Linked DNA regions of Homo sapiens: region 1 is linked to region 2. Evidence: fine-mapped QTL for protein levels in blood plasma. A gene starts in region 2. The other region holds a variant in brackets. All regions are shown on one strand. Distances are between the middles of the regions.

What was found. A credible set is the group of variants that fine-mapping cannot tell apart. PIP is the chance, under the fine-mapping model, that this variant and not a neighbour inherited with it causes the effect. Protein levels are from antibody-based Olink assays in UK Biobank. Linkage for the fine-mapping came from a reference panel and not from the study's own genotypes, which makes the PIPs less certain.
Region 1: its variant is the best candidate, but not a certain one, in a credible set for the plasma level of the ACY3 protein (UK Biobank, PIP 0.55).

The regions. Positions count from the first base shown.
Region 1 is chr11:67,584,696-67,595,443 of GRCh38, reverse strand. GSTP1 (glutathione S-transferase pi 1) reads right to left here. Exons shown (of 7, transcript NM_000852.4): 4 at 10,672-10,748; 5 at 10,203-10,306; 6 at 9,233-9,340; 7 at 8,791-9,055. The coding sequence ends at 8,867. Among named protein-coding and RNA genes, the nearest start is that of GSTP1, 6.3 kb to the right of the region's middle. RefSeq lists enhancers at 7,031-7,320, 8,684-8,753 and a silencer at 7,189-7,389. The variant C/T (reference allele first, on the strand shown) is at 7,118.
Region 2 is chr11:67,647,786-67,658,926 of GRCh38, reverse strand. It overlaps ACY3 (aminoacylase 3), which reads left to right and starts at 8,197. Exons shown (of 8, transcript NM_080658.2): 1 at 8,197-8,344. RefSeq lists enhancers at 7,916-7,975, 8,046-8,125, 9,856-10,275, 9,803-10,325, 10,736-10,815.

The sequences.
Region 1 (10,748 bases), 63 kb after region 2:
AGATCGTGCCACTGCACTCTAGCCTGGGTGACAGAGCGAGACTCCATCTCAAAAAAAAAAAAAAAAAAGAAAAGAAAAGAGAAAAGAAAAAGGAAAACATTGTAAGAGTATAAAAGGTATATAGAAACTTTATCTTGAGTAGTGGTCAAAAGTGATTGAGATTAGATGGATCTGTTTGCAAGATTTTATTATAACTATATTTTTAGCTGTAGCATTAATAATACACTAATGTAAAGGTAGAATTTAGTTTTCTCTTTTAAACGAGATTTTCATGTAGTAGTAATAAGAGATTGTAAAAGATTTTTGTTTGCCTTTTGAGCAAACTGCAAAGTGAAAAAAATAAAAAAAGAGGAGCGAGTTTGCCTTATGCTTCCTTCATTAGGTCTTTGGATTGTTTAGAAAACTGAGTCTCCTCTCTATCAAACAATAAAGGTTTTTGCTTTCGGAAATCTTTTTTTTTTTTAGATGGAGTTTCGCTCTTTTTGCCCAGGCTACAGTGCAATGGTGCGAACTTGGCTCAATGCAACCTTCCCCCCACCCCCCGTGTTCAAGCGATTCTCCTGCCTTAGCCTCTTGAGTAGCGGGGATTACAGGCACCTGCCACCATGCCCAACTAATTTTGTATTTTTAGGGGAGACAGGGTTTCACCATGTTGGCCAGACTGGTCTCGAACTCCTGACTTCAGGTGATCCTCCCACCTTGGCTTCCCAAAGTGCTGGGATTACAGATGTGAGTCACCACACCCAGCTTTTCTGAAATCTTTCAGTTATCACTTTGGCTAAATGAATGACTATTATTTTGAAGTTCCCCATGATTCTATTTTGAACAAGTCTTTTAAACCTTTTCTATTTTAATATCAAGTGTTTTAAAGCTTTGGTATTTGACAAACTTCCAAAAATGAAAATTCAAATTCTAAATTAAGCCATTTTGACCTCAAACTAACGTTTCAACATTTGAAAAAGAAAAAAAAAACCCATGTAAGTTCAAGAGAACTTGGTATTATTTGGCATGTAAAAATTACACAGCAAGCATTGTCAAAAAAGAAATGACATTTAACTTTCTTTGAGTTATATTTGTGAAATGTGTTATTAATATGTGTTCCAAAATTATATGAGATTCCTAAAAATCTGATATGTGTTGGTATATATTATCAGTCATTATTGTAAGTATTGTGTTGAATTATAGTGATACGGAAGGGGGGCAGGGAAGTGCTGGGTAGAGGAATGTGTAGTCCCTGGCTAGGGCTCCACCCCCAGGCCTGTGCCCATGGACCTGGGTGAAGACAGGCATTTTTGTTTTCCTGCCCAAATATTGCATTTCCAAAGAGCACCCTGGCCCACCACACCCATATCCTGTGCCTATAAAAACCCTGAGACCCTAGCAAGCAGACACACAAGCAGCTGGACGTGGAGAGGAACACATTGGCAGAAGAAGACACAAGTGGCTGGACGTTGAGAGGTCATTGAGGGGTGCCAGCTCTGTCCCACAGACCCTGGCCAACAGAGGAAATGAGTACCCAGACACAGGTATGCAGTGTTAAGAGCAGCTAGGTGACTGCCTGGCTCTAGTGGAAGAAGCTGGAGCTGCTTTGCTTTTATTCAGTGCAGGCACAATGTCGAAAACCTGGAGCCGACACAATCTGTAAGTCATTAATATTTATTATTCCCCTTTCAGGGAACCTCATGTTCCCTGAAACATGATCATAGGTGATCATAGATGATCTAAGGTCAGTTCCTGGTCGACATAAGTAAACATGCCTATTTAAGATAAAATCCCCCATACTCCCTTGTACCTACTCCTTGCCCTCTGCCTCAGGGTTATAGAAGAGCTGCCTTCAGTTCTTCTCCCCCAGGGCTCTGCAGAACCTTCCCACCTTTCAGAAGGTTTGCGTCCTTTCCCTATAGTTCTTCCCACCTCTCTGACCAATCTGCCACAGAAGGGAGCAGGCTGGTGGAAGAGCACACGACAGACGCCAGCATGCCGGCAGGCCATCCACCTGCAGAACGAGGCGGAGTTTGGCCGGGCAGTCAAAGGCAAGCCCAGGCCGCTGAGCAGCCTGACTCCAGGGCAAAACCTTCCCACTCCATGCCCTTCTGGCTTCCTCCAACTGCTGAGAGTTACCTCCACTCAATAAAACCTTGCACTCATTCTCCAAGCCCAGGTGTGATCCTATTCTTCCAGTACACCAAGGCAAGAACCTGGGATACAGAAATCCCTCTGTCCTTGTAACAAAGCAGAGGGTCTAATTGAGCTGCTGGTTAACACAAGCTGCCTATAGATGGCAAAACTAAAAGAGCACCCTGTAACACATGCCCACTAGGGCTTCAGGAGCTGTAAACATCCACCCCTAGATGCTGCCGTGGGTTGGAGCCCCACAACCTGCCCATCTGTATGCTCCCCTGCAGGTCTGAGCAGCGGGGCACTGAAGAAGCGAGCCACTCCCCCATCACATGCCCTGCAAGGGGGACAAGGGAACCCTTCCCGTTTCAGTAGGCCACAAAAAAATAAAATGACCAAATTTCTTTGTTGATTGCATCTTTGACCATGACTACTTTAAATCTTGCCCTATTCCTTCTTGGAGAGCTCCCTCCAATCTTCATGGAAACTAATGAACCCATTTCACTGGTCAAATAATTCAGTTTATTTGTAACGTATGGCTGATTTTTCAACATTTCCATTGTCCATACCACCCTCAGTCTTCCAGACTTGTGAAATGCACAAATAATAAAAATCAAATTGGCAAAGCTTATAGAAACTTTTTTTTTTTTTGAGACAGTCTCCCTCTTGTCGCTCAGGCTAGAGGGCAGTGGCGCGATCTCAGCTCACTGCAACCTCCGCCTCCCAGGTTCAAGCAATTCTCCTGCCTCAGCCTCCTGAGTAGCTGGGATTACAGGCACCCACCACCATGCCCAGCTAATTTTTGTACTTTTTAGTAGAGACGGGTTTCGCCATGTTGGCCAGGCTGGTATCGAACTCCCGGCCTCAGGTGATCCGTCTGCCTCGGCCTCCCAAAGTGCTGGGATTACAGGTGTGAGCCACCGTGCCTGGCCAAGCTTATAGAAACTTGAAACTTCTCTGGCCTAAGAGTCTCCCATTGGTATTGCTTAATTCACACTCTACCCCATTTCAACAACATCGGCTTTCTTTCTTTGAAATAACAGGAAGGCCATGTGCCTGAATGCAGAAGTCTATGAGCTAGCTCTTCTTAAAAATGCTATACTTCATGATTGCCAGGGCCTTTATAAAGCTTCTCAATTAAAAAAAAATTTAATTAATGAAGAATTCTTTTAAAAAGCAATCTCCCTGGAGACAGACATCAAAGATCACAGCTTCCAACCTGGAGATTTTGTTTATTGGAAACATCATCAAATAAAATACTCCCTCCAACCATGTTGGAAGGGATCATGTCACGTACTGTTAACCAGTCTTTGTGCAGCTAACATCAGGGGCATTGACTCATGGATTCTCATTTTTTTTTTCACTTTAAAAAGGCAGCCCACCTGAGTGGACATCTTTCATCACCAGAGATCTCCCACCGAAGCTGACCACAACCAGTCACCTTGTTCTTCAAACCTGGATGAGAAGTGGAAACTCGGTTTGGAAGGATCACTCAAAAGGCTAAATGGCTGCAAGCTGTCAAAAAGCCAACCCCATTACATGATCTATTTGATTTGTTACCTTCACAAATAAGAACACTTTTCAGATCTGGATTTCAACTTGTTTTGTTAATAACTGTCTTTATTTGCATCATATTTTTTTTTTGATACAGTTTCACTCTTGTCGCCTAGGCTGGAGTGCAGTGGCGCCATCTCAGCTCACTGCAAGCTCCGCCTCCAGGGTTCAAGCGAATCTCCTGCCTCGGCCTCCTGAGTAGCTGGGATTACAGGTGTCTGCCACCACACCTGGCTAATTTTTGTGTTTTTAGTAGAGACAGGTTTCACCATGTTGGCCAGGCTGGTCTCGAACTCCTAACCTCAAGTGATCTGCCCAACTCAGCCTCCCACCTCAGCCTCCCAAAGTGCTGGGATTACAGGTGTGAGCAACTGTGCCCGGCCAGTAGTTTTTATTCTTAAATTGATTATGCTTTGCATTTCTAGATGTCTTAAGTCAACAACAAAAAATAAAATCATGATAGCTAGATGCTTAGAAATGCTCTCACATGTCACGGCTCCTTTGTAAGCGGATGGCTCGACTGAGTTCCCATTGCTTTGTCCCTCTGTGGTTCTAATCAATTTGACCTTGAGACTTCACTAAATTCTTTTTTTTTTTTTTTTTTTTTGAAATGAAGTCTTGCTCTTGTTGCCCAGGCTGGAGTGCAATGGTGCGATCTTGGCTCACTGCAACCTCTGCTTCCCAGGTTCAAGCGATTCTCCTGCCTCAGCCTCCTGAGTAGCTGGGATTATAAGCGTGCACCACCACGCCCGGGTAATGTTTGTATTTTTAGTAGAGACGGGTTTCACCATGTTGGCCAGGCTGGTCTCGAACTCCCGACCTCAGGTGATCCACCCGCCTCGGCCTCCCAAAGTGCTGGGATTACAGGCGTGAGCCACCGTGCCCGGCACCTTCACTAAATTCTTTAACCATAGGTACCTCTCCTCTTTCTCTCTGAAGTAGGACAGATGGCCTGGGAATAAGCCTTCCCAGTGACATGGGACAAACTTGCATCTAACACATTGATTCCTGAATCTTACGTGACAGTGAACAAAAATCATATGCATAAAAAAAATGTCGATCATCAATGCTTTCAGAAGAGAAAAATATCTATCAAAAGAGGGAAATGAGAAAGAAAAGTAGCTTAGAGCAGTGTGAAGAATGCGAGCTATGCAAAACGTATCAGGCCAGGAGAGACAGGAAAATGAGTCTCCCTGCCGGGGGTAGTTGTTTAAGGGTATTTTGTTCTTTCTTCTCGTGTAGTTTCCAGACTAACTGATAAATTAAAATGCTATCAGGCATCGATTTTTTTTTTGAGACGGAGTCTCGCTTTGTCACCCAGGCTGGAGTGCAGTGGTGCAATCTCGGCTCACTGTAAGCTCCACCTCCCAGGTTCACGCCATTCTCCTGCCTCAGCCTCCCAAGCAGCTGGGACTACAGGTGCCTGCCACCACACCCGGCTAATTTTTTTGTATTTTTAGTAGAGACAGGGTTTCACCATGTTAGCCAGGATGGTCTTGACCTCCTGACCTCGTGATCCACCCTCCTCGGCCTCCCAAAGTGCTGGGATTACAGGCGTGAGCCACTGCACCCGGTCAAAAGTTTGGGTTTCTTCTGGCCTATATATGGACCAAGTAGGGGCTTGTGGACCTTGGATATTGTCCTCAGAGCAATACCATTCTGCCTCTTGCATCCAATTTTGAGCTTCCTCAGGTCCTGTCAACATATGTGTAACTAGATTACTGAGGTCAGGGTGGAGCCCATTAACAAATAGGGCAGACAAAGCATTTTCTATGCCGGACAGGGATACCTTTTATTATTGCTCTGAGCTTAAGATTTTAACTATGGCATAAGGGTAAAGAAGCAGACATGGTTGATTTGACAGCCTAACTTGTATAACTTATCTAGCTGGGTTTTTTTTCATTGCATCGTCAAGGTGGGAAGGTAACCAAGCAAAGAAGTCAGCAGATTCAGAGGAGGCTAGTGAGAAAGATGGAGAACTTAGAACCCTCTGCTTGCCAACCAAAAATACAACCCATTATTTCTGGGGTGTTTGGGATCCCCCCTCTTTTTTTTCAATGCATTCTGGAGATGAGCAGTTTTATTTAGGTTAAAACTTCCCCACTGTGGCCACCAAAATTCTAAATTATTTTTGGTAAGATTCAATCATCTCTCTAGAAGAGCACAAGTCCTGCGATGGAGTCCCAGACCCCCTGGATTTAAATGAGCCCAGAATTGTTTGTTTTCCTGGAACCTTACCTATTAGAGGTCTTTCACTAAAACCATTTCAGTTTCTGTCTGACCCAGTCAGATACCTGAAGCCTCCCTACAGGATGCGTTAAACTTCTACCACAACTTCCAAACCCAGTCCAGATCGGCTCAACTCAGAGAACTCGATTTAAGTTCTGGAGTTTGTATGTGATATGGTTTGGCTGTGTCCCCACCCAAATCTCATCTTGAATTGTAATCTCCACGTGGTGAGGGAGGGACTTAGTGGGAGGTGATAGGATCATGGGGGCGAATTTCCCCCTTGCTATTCTCGTGACAGTGAGTTGTCACGTGCTCTGTTGGTATAAAAGGATGTGGAACTTCCCCCCTTACCTCCCCTGCCACCATGTAAGATGTGCCTTGCTTCCCATTCGCCTTCTGCCACGATTGTAGGTTTCCTGAGGCCTCCCCAGCCATGCAGAACTGTGAGTCAATCAATCTTCTGTCACCCAGGCTGGAGTGCAGAGGCGTCATCTCAGCTCACTGCAGCCTCTGCCTCCCGGGTTCAAGGGATTCTCCTACCTCAGCCTCCCGAGTAGCTGTGATTACAGGCACGTGCCACCATGCCCAGCTGATTTTTTAAATATTTTTAGTAGAAATGGGGTTTTCACCATGTTGGCCAGGCTGGTCTCCAACTCCTGACCTCAAGTGATCTGCTCGCCTCAGCCTCCTGAAGTGCTGGGATTGGCTGGGTGCAGTGGCTTACGCCTGTAATCCCAGCACTTTGAGAGGCCGAGGCGAGTGGATCACCTGAGATCAGGAGTTTTGACACCAGCCTGGCCAACATGGTGAAACCCTGTCTCTACTAAAAATACAAAAATTAGCCAGGCATGGTGGCATGTGCCTGTAATCCTAGCTACTTGGGAGGCAGAGGCAGGAGAATCACTTGAACCCAGAAAGTGGAGGTTGCAGTGAGCTGAGATTGTGCCACTGCACTCCAGCCTGGGCGACAGAGTGAGACTCTGACTCAAAAAACAACAACAACAACAACCAGAAAAAAAACCAAAGTGTTGGGATTACAGGTATGAGCCACCACACCTGGCTTAGCCTCTTTTCTTTATAAATTACCCAGTCTCAGGTAGTTCTTTATAGCAGTGTGAGAAGGGACTAATACAGTATCTGAGTGGGACTTACCAGTGATGACCTTCAAATATGCTGCAGGAAGCAGCGTGCAGGGGGCTCAGTGAAATGCCTACAC[C/T]TGTTTGCTCATTGCTCCTGGAGACCATCACTGGGCCCAGGATGGGGAGAAATCCTTCAGATCCTTCTGATGTCCTTCTGAAGGATCCTACCTCTGACATCAGATCTGCTAGAAGATAAACTTAAGCCCATTTACATTCTAAAGAGTTTATTTGAGCATTCAGTGACACATAAATTAAGATAGCACAAGACCAAAGCAGCTAGTGCTTCTATTAGAGGGGAAGTGAAACTTAATCATTTTGCAGAAGCCAGACAAAGAAAACAATTTTGACTGGTTAGAGTGAAAAGTCCCAAGTTAGAGGTTAGTTGGCAGTTTCTGATTAATATAGCGTATTAGGCTGGGTGCGGTGGCTCACGCCTGTAATCCCAGCACTTTGGGAGCCCAAGGCGAGTGGATCACGTGAGGTTAAAAGTCCGAAACCAGCCTGGCCAACATGATGAAAGCCCATCTCTACTAAAAATACAAAAATTAGCCAGGCGCGGTGGTGGGCACCTGTAATCCCAGCTACTCAGGAGGCTGAGGCAGGAGAATTGCTTGAGTCTGAGAGGCAGAGGTTACAGTGAGCAGAGATTACACCACTATACTCCAGCCTAGGCACCAGAGTGAGACTCCATCTCAAAAACAAAACAAAACAAAACAAAACAAAAACAGTGTATTAGTCCATTCTCACACTGCTACAAAGACCTATCAGAGACTGAGTAATTTATGAAGAAAAGAGGTTTAATTGACTCACAGTTTTGCAGGCTTAACAGGAAGCATGACTGGGAAGCCTCAGGAAACTTACAATCAGGGTGGAAGGTGAAGGGGAAGCAGGCACATCTTTACAAGGTGGCAGGAGAGAGAGAGCGATTCTCATGCCTCAGCCTCCCAAGTAGCAGGGACTACAGGTAACCGCCACCACACCTGGCTAATTTTTGTATTTTTAGTAGAGACGGGGTTTCACCATGTTGGTCAGGCTGGTCTTGAACTCCTGACCTCAAGTGATTCACCTGCCTCAGCCTCCCAAAGTGCTGGGATTACAGGCATGAGCCACTATGCCCAGCCTAGATAAATTTGAATGCTTTTCTCTTGCTCATGTCTTTAGTTCTCAGGCCCAGCCAAAAAACCCTAAAAGGACAGAGATAAAATTTTGCCTGCCCTACAGCATCTTACTGGCTTAGCTTCTCTGGAGAATCCTAATACAGTAGTGTCATTGCTTGCCTAGGATGCACCAAAACTCACAAGTCAGCAGGAAGCCAGGAAAGCCCCCATCCAAGCAGAATGACCCTCCCACCAACCTGGGCTGCTCAGAGCTACTCAGCTAATCCCCCAGGACAGGGAACTCCTCACATCCCTCCTTCCCAGAATCCCTCATTTCCCTCCATCCTGGAGTCTGTCCATCTGACAGGCACGTGCTGTGCCTAGAAAGCATGTTTCTATGAGACTTTTCTCCTTCTATATACACTGTGTGGTGCTCCAGGACAGTGACCATGGTTATTTCTCTTTGTTTCTCTCTCTCTTTTTTTTTCTTCCTCTTCTAGTTTGTGAGGTTCAGTAAACACAGCCAGGCTGAGGGCTCCAGGAAGCCACTGACTGTGCTGGAGGAGCTGTTTTCTAGTCCTCTGCTCTGCCCTCCCACCGACCTCGAGGCTGAGAACCCCTAAGCCCCGTCCCAGGAAACACAGTGCTCATAGTAGCTCTCTTAGAAATTTTATTGGTCCTGGAGAAAGGAAGGCAAACTCTGCCTCCCGCTCAGAGTCCCCCCAACCCTCACTGTTTCCCGTTGCCATTGATGGGGAGGTTCACGTACTCAGGGGAGGCCAGGAAGGCCTTGAGCTTGGGCCGGGCACTGAGGCGCCCCACATATGCTGAGAGCAGGGGGAACGCATCCAGGCAGCCAGGGGCTAGGACCTCATGGATCAGCAGCAAGTCCAGCAGGTTGTAGTCAGCGAAGGAGATCTGCAGGGCAGGGGGGCCAGGGACTCAGCCAGCGGGAGCAGGCTGGAGGAATTGGGGGCAGAGGGCCTAAGCCCATCCCCTAGGTCTGCTCTGCTTTGCTAAACAAATGGCTCACACCTGTGTCCATCTGGAAGCAGAGGGTGGCGAGGAAGGAACAGCATGGGGCCAGATGCTCACCTGGTCTCCCACAATGAAGGTCTTGCCTCCCTGGTTCTGGGACAGCAGGGTCTCAAAAGGCTTCAGTTGCCCGGGCAGTGCCTTCACATAGTCATCCTTGCCCGCCTCCTGCCAGACACCACCATGTATCATCCTACTCTCATCCCTCCCAGCCCCTGAGACACCCCCGTCTGCCCCAGGCCAGACACCAGAGTCCCAGATTCTCCTCTGCTTGCTCCCCACAACCAGGCTAGTACCAAATCCTGTCCACTTCAGCTGCCAACTCATCTCTATTCCATTCTGCCTGTCCATCCTTGCTGGGTTCTCTCACCAGATGATTGCAAAAGCTTTAGAGCTGGCTTCTCTGGAGGATCCTTCTAGACCTCACATTCAGACACAGCCCTGTTCAGACTTCTCAATGGCCCCCATTGCCCTTAGGAGACTCCAAACCAGTGGGTTCAAGGCCTTCGGGACCTGGGCCTACTGCCCGCCCATCTCTATCTCCTTACCCACCCGACACAAATGCAAGCGTACACACACACACGCACACACATGCACACGCACGCGCACACACGCTGCCTCTGCTGAACTGGTCCCAGGTCCCCAAATGTGCTCTGTGTCTGCATATTTTCCTCAGCTAAAAGTGCCAGCACCTCCATCCAGAAACTGGCGACAAATCCTCCTCCACCTCTGGCTACTCCAGGAAGCCCTCGCCACCCCAGGAGATCAGAAACCACCAGTTGCTGGAGGTCTCTGTCCTTGCACTCGCCCCCATGACCCGTTACTTGGCTGGTTGATGTCCCAGGCAATAAGGGTGCAGGTTGTGTCTTGTCCCAGGCCCCTGGGCCCCTGGCCCAGAGCTGACCCAGCCCCTGCACCCTGACCCAAGAAGGGGTCAGCCCAAGCCACCTGAGGGGTAAGGGGGGTGAGGGCACAAGAAGCCCCTTTCTTTGTTCAGCCCCCAGTGCCCAACCCTGGTGCAGATGCTCACATAGTTGGTGTAGATGAGGGAGATGTATTTGCAGCGGAGGTCCTCCACGCCGTCATTCACCATGTCCACCAGGGCTGCCTCCTGCTGGTCCTTCCCATAGAGCCCTGGGGTTGGGTGGAGGGGAGCAGGCCGCGTGACTGGGCGCCTGATCAACACACAGTCACTGGGGATGGGCCAACCAGGGGGCTGTCTGTGAGCCCCAGCCTGGGAGGAGGGGAAGAGGATGTGCGTGGAAGGATGAGAGACTGCCACACAGCAGGTGCTCAGAGCTCACCTGACACCTGGGAGGCAGCCTGGCACAGGGCAAGGATTGCAGGCACCCAGGCTTGACCTTGGGCAAACTACGTAACCTCAGTGGGTCTCAGTTTCCTCCACTCCAGAGGGCTGCGGGGCAGCTGATTTAAACAAAAGGGCTCCGGGGGCAGAGGCTTGCCCATGCCTGCCCTGGACTTGGAGGTTCAAGACTCACCAAGGGTGCGGCCCAGGTGACGCAGGATGGTATTGGACTGGTACAGGGTGAGGTCTCCGTCCTGGAACTTGGGGAGC
Region 2 (11,141 bases):
TAGGGCTGGACCCTACAACAAGCGTGAGCCACTGCACCTGGCCAGTTTTGCTCAATCTTAATTAGCAATTTTGGACCATAGCCAATTGTGAATGCTTCCAGAGAAGAATTTAAAACAACTGTGGGTGGCAGGGCATGGTGGCTCACGCCTATAATCCCAGCATTTTGGGAAGCCAAGACGGGAGAATCACTTGAGCTCAGGAGTTTGAGACCAGCCTGGGAAACATGAGACCTTGTCCTTATAAAAAAATAAAGACAATTAGCTGGGCACAGTGGAGCACCCCTGTAGTCCCAGCTACTCAGGAAGCTGAGGTGGGAGGATCACTTGAGCCTGGGAGGTTAAGGCTGAAGTGAGCTGTGATCACGCCACTGTACTCCAGCCTGGGCAATAGAGTGAGACCCTGACTGAAAAATAAGAATTAACTGTGGGTGACAAAAGCCCAGAGCAGCCAGTCAGAGATCTGATGACAATTTACAATTGACAGGAAATTTCAGCATTTCTTTTTTTTTCCTTTTTCTTTTTGAGACGGAGTCTCACTCTGTCACCCAGGCTGGAGTGCAGTGGCGCATTCTCAGCTCACTGCAAGCTCCGCCTCCCAGGTTCACACCATTCTCCTGTCTCAGCCTACCGAGTAGCTGGGACTACAGGTGCCCACCACCATGCCCGGCTAATTTTTTATATTTTTAGTAAAGACAGGGTTTCACCATGTTAGCCAGGATGGTCTCAATCTCCTAACCTCGTGATCCACCCGCCTCGGCCTCCCAAAGTGCTGGGATTACAGATGTGAGCCACCGTGCCCGGCCAGAAATTTCAGCATTTCTCTGGCATACAACCATGTGACACAACCATCACAGTCATGACACATATCTTGGCATATCAGAGTTTTAGGAATCTCAAACCTTTTCCCCTGTGTTAGTGACACACTTACACAAACATTACTTAAAGGAAGTTAAACACCGTTTCTATTTGACAATGCTTCCCATATTATTTACCAAGTAAGCCTGATCATTTAATATCTCCAAAAGATCAGAGACAAAACCTTTGAGGCTTGTTCCAGGAGGCCCTTTTGGTAGAATCTCAAAGTTGATTTTAGGCCAGATGGCTTAATTTAGGATTTGGATCCTGGGGAATTCTGCCAAAGAGGATGTCAAAAAGTTCAAATGGCTTCCTTCAACAGAATCAGAGATCACTGCCGAATAATAGTTACTCGTTTAACCACAGTGACAATCAAAAGAATTCAAAAGCAACACGAAAAGTTACATGCATGGAAAAACCTTAACACTTTAAAGCTCAGTCTCCCTAAGCAATCTGTGTTTCCTAGGCTGGTGAGCAGGGGAATACATTAGTAATACCATGGGAAGTCCTGGTTACATGAAACAACTCAGACACATTAAGAAAAACCAAGAACACAGAATCAGTTTATACTGGCGTAAAGCTGCTTTTCTAGACCTTTGAGATAAACCTGAAACCAAAGAAATTAGACTGATCTTAAGAAGGAATATGACAGAAACAGAAACTAATTTGTAATTCAGAGAATGGCTATTAACGAAGCAGGTTTTAGAAATAAATATCAAAACCTCTTGGAACTTTACTAAGAGTGAATTAATGTCTTAAGAAACTGCTGTTTTTTGTTTGTTTGTTTTTAAGACGGAGTCTCGTTCTGTCACCCAAGCTGAAGTGCAGTGGTGTGATCTCGGCTCACTGCAAGCTCCGTCTCCTGGGTTCACGCCATTCTCCTGCCTCAGCCTCCTGAGTAGCTGGGACTGCAGGTGCACGCCCCCAAGCCTGGGTAATATTTTGTATTTTTAGTAGAGACGGGGTTTCACCATGTTAGCCAGGTTGGTCTCAAATCTCCTGACCTCATGATCCACCTGCCTCGGCCTCCCAAAGTGCCTGGATTACAGGCATGAGCCACTGCGCTCAGCCGAAACCACTGTTGTTTTAACACAGGGGACCAAAATTGTAAGTTATGTATCATGTGTTTTAACATTCAAATTCATTCTCTAGAAAAACTGTTACAGGCCAGGCATGGTGGCTCATGCCTGTAATCCCAGCACGTTGGGAGGCCAGGATCACCTGAAGTCAGGAGTTCAAGACCAGCCTGGCCAACATGGTGAAACCCCATCTCTACTGAATATACGAAAATTAGCCAGGCATGGTAGTGCACGCCTGTAATCCCAGCTACTCAGGAGGCTGAGGCAGGAGACTCACTTGAACCCAGGAGATGCAAGTTGCAGTGTGGCAAGATCGAACCACTGCACTCCAGCCTTGGCAAATGAGCAAGACAGCCAGACTCCATCTCAAAAAAAAAAAAAACTATTACAAATCATTTCATTTAATTACAGCCAATTTAATCACACCCAACATTTCCATCATAAGTTCCCATTCACAAGCCTTATCATGACTTACTCAGACAGCTGTGGCATGCTTGGACTTGCCCTGTACTTCCTCTTTCTTAAATGTCTAGTCATTTTAGTCCAAGACAGAGATTGAACACACAAGTTTCTTTCCTATACAAAATTACTCTCATTGCTTCACATCTGTAATTTTCTTTACATCTCTGTCTCATCTACTTACTGGTTCCTTTTAATCTTTTTTCTATTTCTTTCCTAAATCCATATTTTAAAACTCCCTTTAAATAACAGCTAAATTAGACAAATTACTTTTTTTCTCAATAAAGAATATATTGTATACCTTTCTTACTGTTTTCTTATTAAGTGCTCCTTACTTTTGGCACACTTCCTATATAGAATTGTATATTAGGATTTTTAAAAACCCTTAGTACTCTTAAATTTTTGTTTTTAATTATCTTTTTTCTTTTTTTGAAACAAGGTCGTGCTCCATCACCCAGGCTGGAGTGCAGTGGCATTGATTTTGGCTTACTGGAGCCTTGACCTCCCTGGCTCAAGTGATCCTCCCACCTCAGCCTCCTGAGTAGCTGGGACTACAGTAGGCATGTGCCACCACCCCTGGCTAATTTTTTCTTTTTTGTTTTTCAGTAGAGACAGAGTTTCACTATGTTGCCCAGGCTGGTCTGAACCTCCTGATCTCAAACGATCCTCCTGCTTCAGCTTCCCAAAGTGCTGGAATTACAGGCATGAGCCACAGTGCCCATCCAGTTCCCTTAAATTTTGTTGAAAACATAGGAAGCACAAAATCTTGAACTTCCTATCACATATTGGTATTTTATGGGGAAGAGCCATTTTGTAATTGTTAGAAAAACATGTTTTCCTATAGCATAATTTTTATACGTATTTATAGGCCCAAACATATTTAGTCTTTATATTAAATTTAAGAGACCCAGGGCAAACATATTTATGGTCAGCAATTTGTTCCAGTTTTTGTCTTATTTGGAAATAACTCACATAGTTAATGAGTATCCATTACCTAATAGAGGATTTCAAATTACATTAAAAAGCCGATAGATACTTATCCCATTTACCTTTACATACTTTATTTATTTTTAGCAGTTTACCAGGATTACTTATGAGAACTGATATATTAGACAAAGCTAGTCATCATTTCAAATTATTTATCTGTTAATTACCTTTATATAGCTGGATGTCAGGCAACTATCATAAAAGTAAGAACCTTTAAGGCCGGATGCTGTGGCTCACGCCTGTAATCCCAGCACTTTAGGAGGCCGAGGTGGGCAGATCACGAGGTCAGGAGATCAAGACCATCCTGGCTAACACAGTGAAACCCCATCTCTACTAAAAAAAAAAAAAAAATACAAAAAATTAGCCGGGCGTGGTGGCAGGCGCCTGTAGTCCCAGCTACTCGGGAGGCTGAGGAAGGAGAATGGCGTGAACCCGGGAGGCAGAGCTTGCAGTGAGCCGAGATCACGCCACTGCACTCCAGCCTGGGCGACAGAGCGAGACTCCGTCTCAAAAAAAAAAAAAAAAAAGTAAGAACCTTTAAGTTACATTTCAGAAGGCACACCATTCCCATCAAACCAACAATTTTAGACTAGTTCCATTCACCAAAAGATTACTGTCATGTGAACTTGAAAAGCACTTGGTCTTATTTGCTTAGTTTATGAGTACTCATTTCTTTATAAGCCAATTCGGTACCATAGCCAAATATAACCGGACGTGTACATACTACCAGATACAAATAACGATCCTATAGCTTTAACTTTTAAAGGTTTAGCCATGGGTCAGGTAAAATTCACTACTTAAAAGACAGTTCCAACTCTGTCTCCGTCCAACTAACAATTTTAGCTAAAATTTATCTCTCCCATACAGCAGAAGCCCTTTCCTAAATTTTAGGAAGAACACGGTAGAAAGGAGACAGGCAAAAATTTGGCTCTAGTGTCGGAAAACCCGTGAGTCTCTCCCACAGCAATTGTTACCCGATCTAGGGGTTCCCAGATCATAGAGGAGTCCCCAAGTCCCATCACTTCTGGTCACTATTAGCAAACTGTAGCATCTGGTGGGCTGATTGACGGGGAAGTTTCTTTCCCTACCCACTGGGGACAGTTAGGACACTCTAGTACCCAATGGCCCTCTTGTTTACAATATGCACACTGTTGTGTTCTCAAGGGCGGGAGGCCCTTTGGCCGGGCAGTGGGGTCCCTAGGGATCTTACTTATGGCTGATCATCTCCAGTGAACTGTTTTGTTTTTTTGTTTTTTGTTTTTTTCAAGAAAGAGTTTTGCTCTTGTCGCACAGGCTAGAGTGCAATGGCGCGATATCAGCTTACAACCTTCGCTTCCTGGGTTGAAGCGATTCTCCTGCTTCAGCCTCCCGAGTAGTTGGGATTACAAGTGCCCACCACCATGCCTGGCTAATTTTTTATATTTTTAGTAGAGACAGGGTTAGCCATGTTGGCCACGCTGGTCTTGAACTCCTGACCTCAGGTGATCCTCCCGCCTCAGCCTCCCAAAGTGCTGGGATTACGGACATGAGCCACCACGCCTGGCCGCAGTGAACTGTTTCTTGTGTACTGGCTGGTTGTAGCCAAGAGACTCGATGGCTTCTTGTCTTGTGTTGCCTTTTTGTTTTTTGTTTTTTGTTTTTTTTTTGCCCTTCCTGGACCTGGCCACAGTTGCTCAATACCTTAAGGGTAATCTCAACCAATGGAGATGTCAGCATCCCCAGTGTCCCTTCTGCTTTTTGTAGTTTATCCGCATGGCTTCTGCCACTGGAGTCCTGCTACAATTACTGTTTTCCCATATTACCCACCCAGCAGCTTAGAGGCGGGATTGGTGGTGACACAGATCCCACAACTCTTGGCCCACACTCAACTAGTTTTAAAAATATATTGGTGGGGAGGGGCGGGCATGGTGGCTCATGCCTATAATCACCACGCTTTGGGAGGCCGAGGTGGGTGGATCACTTGAGCTTAGGAGTTCGAGACCAACCTAGGTAAGATGGTGAAACCCTGTCTCTATAATATTAGGTTGGTTCAAAAGTAACCGCTGTTTTTGCCATTGAAAGTAATGGCAAAAACTGCAATTACTTTTGTACCAATCTAATTTTTTAAAAATTAATTAATTAAAAAAAATTGGAAGGCATAGATTTCACTCGGCAAGGCAGGAAATCTTGTAACTGCTCTATACTGTGGCTCTGCCGACCGCCCGGCACTGCTCCAGCAGATGCAAACTGCCCGAGATTTTGATGAATTCACTGAAGGAAATAAAGACATTGTGTTTAAAAACACAGCAGAAAGGTTGGGTGTGGTGGCTTATGCCTGTAATCTCAGCACTTTAGGAGGCTGAAGGGGGTGGATCACTTGAGCTCAGGAGTTTGAGACCAGACTGGACAACATAGCAAGACCCCATCTCAAAAAAAAAATTAGCTGGGTGCGTGCCTGTAGTTTCAGCTACTTGGGAGGCTGAGATGGGAGGACTGCTTGAACCTGGAAGTTGGAGGTTGCAGTGAGCCACAGTCGAGCCACTGCACTCCAGCCTGGGTGACAGAGCCGGACCTTGTCTCAAAATTAAAAAAAAAAAAAACCCACTGCAGAAGACCTTCAGAATTGCTTGCCTCTAGAAACCATGCTTTCCTCAGAACATCTAACCCTTCAAAAACTACAGCAGCAGCCAGAACCCACCATTCACGCTGACGCATTCCTTTGTGATAAAGACTTCATTGATTCATTATGTGACAAAGGGAAAATGAGCAGAAACTACTGGGTGGTTCACACCAAACAGAACCTTTAGACCGATTGCTCGTTCCTTCTCCCTCATGGAATTGAAGTTCATTTATCTTCATGCACTCCCTGATCAATCAGGAAAGGCTGTGGCTGACGTCAGCTCCAGGCTCAGCACAGTCTTTATGGGGTGATCTTATAGCTTAGCAGTGCAACCCTGTGGAGTAGAACTGAACGGAGACTTTTGCCAGTTGCAGGAAATGGTCATTAAAAAATACCAGTTTATTCACAGAATAAAGGTGCTTCATGCAGACATCTGTCCCCAGGGTTTCTTCTGCAAAATGCTGATGCTGCTATCATGAATAATGTCTTCAAATATTCTCTTAATGAGGCAGAACAAGCCGGAGCTGGGAATACATTTGTCATAATGTAAGGAAGCAGATCATCATCAGTGACAGTGCCAAGTCTTGAAGATTCTCTCCTGGGTCTTCAGACTAATACACATTTATCTCCCTGGGTTGAAGAAGTACTGTGGGACTATGATGTATACCCACAAAAGGATATTGACAAAGAAGCTCTTTATTTATTTATTTATTTATTTATTTATTTATTTATTTATTTATTTTCTTTTGAGACAAGGTCTCACTGTGTTGTCTAGCCTGGAATGCAGCCATACGATAACGGCTCACTGTACTCACGGTACGATTACCTCCAACTCCCCGTGCTCAAGTGATTCTCCCGCCTCAGCCTCCTGAGTAGCTGGGGCCACAGCTGTGTGTGCCACCACCTGGCTAATTTTTTTTTTTTTTTTTTTTTGAGACAGAGTTTCGCTCTTGTCGCCCAGGCTGTAGTGCAATGGCATGATCTCGGCTCACTGCAACCTCTGCCTCATGCCTCAGCCTCCCAAGTAGCTGGGATTACAGGCACCCACCACCATGCCTGGATAAATTTTGTATTTTTAGTACAGACGGGGTTTTGCCATGTTGCCCAGGCTGGTCTTACACTCCTGACATCAGGTGATCCACTCGCCTCAGCCTCCCAAAGTGCTGGGATTATAGGTGTGAGCCACCGCGCCCACCCTAATTTTTTTTTTTTTTTTGGTAGAGACAGGGTCTCCCTATGTTGCCCAGGCTGGTCTTGAACACCTAGGCTCAAGCAATCTGCCCCCCTTGGCCTCCCAAAGTGTTGGGGTTACAGGTGTGAGCCACTGCACCCAGCTGACAAAGAAGCTCTTGAACAAATTCATTTAATGAGATTCTCTAGCACTAAAATAGTCCTACCTCATTGTAATGTTTTGTAGAGTATCTTATAAAACAATGAAAAAAAACCAGTATTTTAATACATATTTTTCTGTATATTTCCTTCTAGCCTTTGTACATATGATCACATATTTGTAAAAAGTTGTATGTATATATATACAACTTTACCCGCTTTGTGTGATGATATGACAAAAACATTTATCTGAAAAAAGTATTTTTTTCATCAAATGGCAGAGCTCCTGTTTCTGGTAACCCGGGGTATGGCAAGTAGGGGCTCTGGGAGATGGAGCAGCTCAGCCTCCTGTGAAAAATTCTGTTTCTCTAAAAAAGAACAAATTCTCATGCTGGGCGCGGTGGCTCACGCCTGTAATCTCAGCACTTTGGGAGGCCGAGGCGGGCGGATCACGAGGTCAAGAGATCGAGACCATCCTGGCTAACACGGTGAAACCCCGTCTCTACTAAAAATGCAAAAAATTAGCCGGGCGTGGTGGCGGGCGCCTGTGGTCCCAGCTACTCAGGAAGCTGAGGCAGGAGAATGGCGTGAACCCGGGAGGTGGAGCTTGCAGTGAGCCGAGATCGCGCCACTGCACCCCAGCTTGGGTGACAGAGCCAGACTCTGTCTCAAAAAAAAAAAAACGAATTCCCAAAACTAGTCCCACTGTTGTCTACCCAGATCCGGGATCCGGGTTGCCCTTGGCCTGGCCAGAGATGCCTCTCAATCCCCCACGGCACGTAGAGCCAGACAGAAACCGAAAGCAGAGGTGCCCTGCGCTGAAGTCTAGAGATCCCACTGCTAGGTCCAAAGAATTTACCCTTTCAGTCAACCCACGGGGCAAAGTCCACTTTCTTCCCTGAAGGAGCAGCACAGAACAAAAGCTCCAGGCAGCTGCTTCCGCTGTTTCGGGGGTAGGGCGGAGTGACAGCCCCACGGGCCACGCAGCAAGCAGAAGATCCCCGGGAGTCACCCTCAACCCTCTGGGGCCACGTGGGTGAGTTCGCCCGGGGAAGGTGCCGCGGCCCACTGCTTTACCTTAGTGAGCCTCAAGAAGTTAGGATCAGAATCCCAGTCGGCCCCATCTGGGTCGCCAGAGTTTTGTTACCCACACAACGGGTGGGCTCAGTTGCTTGGCGGGTGTTAACTAAAGAGGATTTAATAGGGGATTTTATTTCTTGCAACAAGTAAGGAGAACACCTAGACAGCTCCCAAAGCAGTGTCTCCCCGAGCTGAGGGCTGGGGCAGGTTTTATAAGCATAGGGTAATGAGGCGTGATCTGATTGCATCTTGCAATGAGGTGATGCTGGGAGGCATGATCTAATTGGATGCTGACACAGGGGGGAACCACAGCTCTGACCCCTCTCTGGGTCTCAGTTTCCCCAACTGCAGTGAGGAAATTGGCCCCCGTGATGATGCCCATGACATCACCATCCTCTGCCCTCACTCATGCTGGGGTCTCCATGTGCCCATTTTCAAGCTTGTGCCCGCCCTTTGTTCCTCACTCCCCACAGCTGCCCTTGGCCAGGACTTTCACAGGGTGGAGCCAAGGCCCAGAGAGGGCACTGAATCTCTCCAGGTCACACAGCCTGTCAGGGAGGTGGGGCCAGAGCCAGGTCACACGTGTGCACACAACACACACACACGCACACATGCTCACGCACATGCACGCACACACGCTCTCAAGCACATGCACACATGCACACACATGCACACACACTCTCATGCACACACGCACACATGTACACACACATGCATGCACACATGCACACAATACTCTCATGCACATGCACACACGTACACACGCACACATGCATGCTGTCACACATGCGCACACACGCACACATGCTCTCATGCACACACGCACACATGTACACATACATGCACACATGCACACAATACTCATGCACATGCACACACATGTACACACGCACGCACACACGCATGCTGTCACGTACACATGTGAGTGCACACACGCACACACATGCTCTCATGCACACGCACACATGTACAGATGCACACATGCATGCACACACATGCACACACGCGCACACACTGCCAGGACTGGGGGCTGCTGTTTCTGAGGGTTCCTGGACCCCGTTCTGTTCCATAAACACTCACTGAAATGCAGAAGCTGGACCCCAGCCAAGGGAAGTGAAACTTTCCAGCACCCCTACTGCTGTTCTCCCTAAACTTGGGGGCCCAGCACCTTGTGGCAGGAAGCACCCTGGCCCCCAGCAGCCCCCAAAATAGCTAGGTCTGCCACGGAGGCCCTTCCTTCCTGAGAGGTACCACACCGAGTCAGCAGGATCCCAGCCTCTGTGGGGGTTGGGGGGGCCTTCCAACAAAGACCATGGCCTGGGACTCATAAAGCAGCATGGGGGTCCCTGAGACCCCTACCCCAAGCAAGGAAGGAACAGACCCAGGCCGACAGGCTCCTCTGCTGACTCCCTCTCCCACCACCTGCCAAGGACTCAGTCAAGTCACCCAACCCCTAGAGCTTCAGTCCACACCTGCAAAATGGAGCCGGTGACAGCTGCCCCCAGGGCTGGGCCGGATACAGGAGTTGATGGCATGGCATGGCCCCCTAATGGCAGTCTCTGCCCTCCCTTTGCTGAGGCTCCAGGTGCCAGGAGGAGTGGCCCCTGGAGGGGGCTCATAGGGAGCCCCGGCCCACTGGGGGCTCAGCCTCACACTCCATCCACCCCTCTTGACACCCTGTCAAGATCCCAGCTGCCCTGATGGGAGCCAGGATGACAAATCCCCTGTCCCCACAATCGCCATGCTCTGAGCTCACGAAGCCTTGGGTGTGGAGGGCAGGAGAGCCCAGGCCACACAGAGCTGAGTGTGATCTGGGGCAGCTTCCGAGAGGGTGTAACTTAGAGGGTCCTGGCCACCCAGAGCCCCCCAGGCTGGTGGGCCTGGCATCTGGAGCAGGGCTGGACTGGCCCGGGGAGACCCAGTGTGGTGGTAAAGAAGGCCCAGGATCGATGCCTGGGGGAGGCTCCAGCTCAGGGTCCCAGCACCTGGCATCCAGCAGGCCCTGGCGGAGCAGCTTGCCTCACTCCCCAGTGACTTCGGAACTGGCCTCAGCTCCTCCCAGCAGACAGCTGAGCCTGGTGGGAGGTAGAGGCCCCAGGGCTGAGTGCAGGGGACCTCACCTTCATCCTTCCCCACTTTGCTCTTGAGAGGCAGCAGGAGGGGATGGAGCCACATTGGACGCACTGAGTGCCACCTACAGCCCGCCTCTAGGGCTCTGTGCGCCACCTGCAGCCCGCCTCTAGGGCTCTGTGTGCCGCTGAACAGTCTGCCCCTAGGGTTCTGTGGGCCACCTGCAGCCTGCCTCTAGGGCTTGTGTGCCTGCAGACAATTTTCTGAGCCTCAGTTTTCACATCTATAAAATGAGCCTGAGGGTTGTTCCCAAAACAGGGCAAACCGAGTCATCTGAGTTACACTGTCCTTGAAAATGACTGAAATCCCGGATCAAACATTTTAAAATTTTGCTTAAAGCAACAAAGAGCTGTAAAACTGGGGCTCCACATGGCACCTTTGGGTAAGGGCGACTCAGGAGTGACCACAGCCCTCTCCGGGCTGCAAGGACAGAGGCATGTTGCCGAGGTGGTGAAGGAGGGGCAGCTTGTCATCTTGGTGGCCATCAAGGTGACACCTCTATAGTAACTTTCAATAGCCTGCTCTGGTGGTGACCAAAACCAAGTCACCACCCCACTGCGGGTGTACCTCTTAGTAGTGTTAAGGAAGGTGGCCCCTCTGGGGCCCAGCAGAAGGACGAAGGG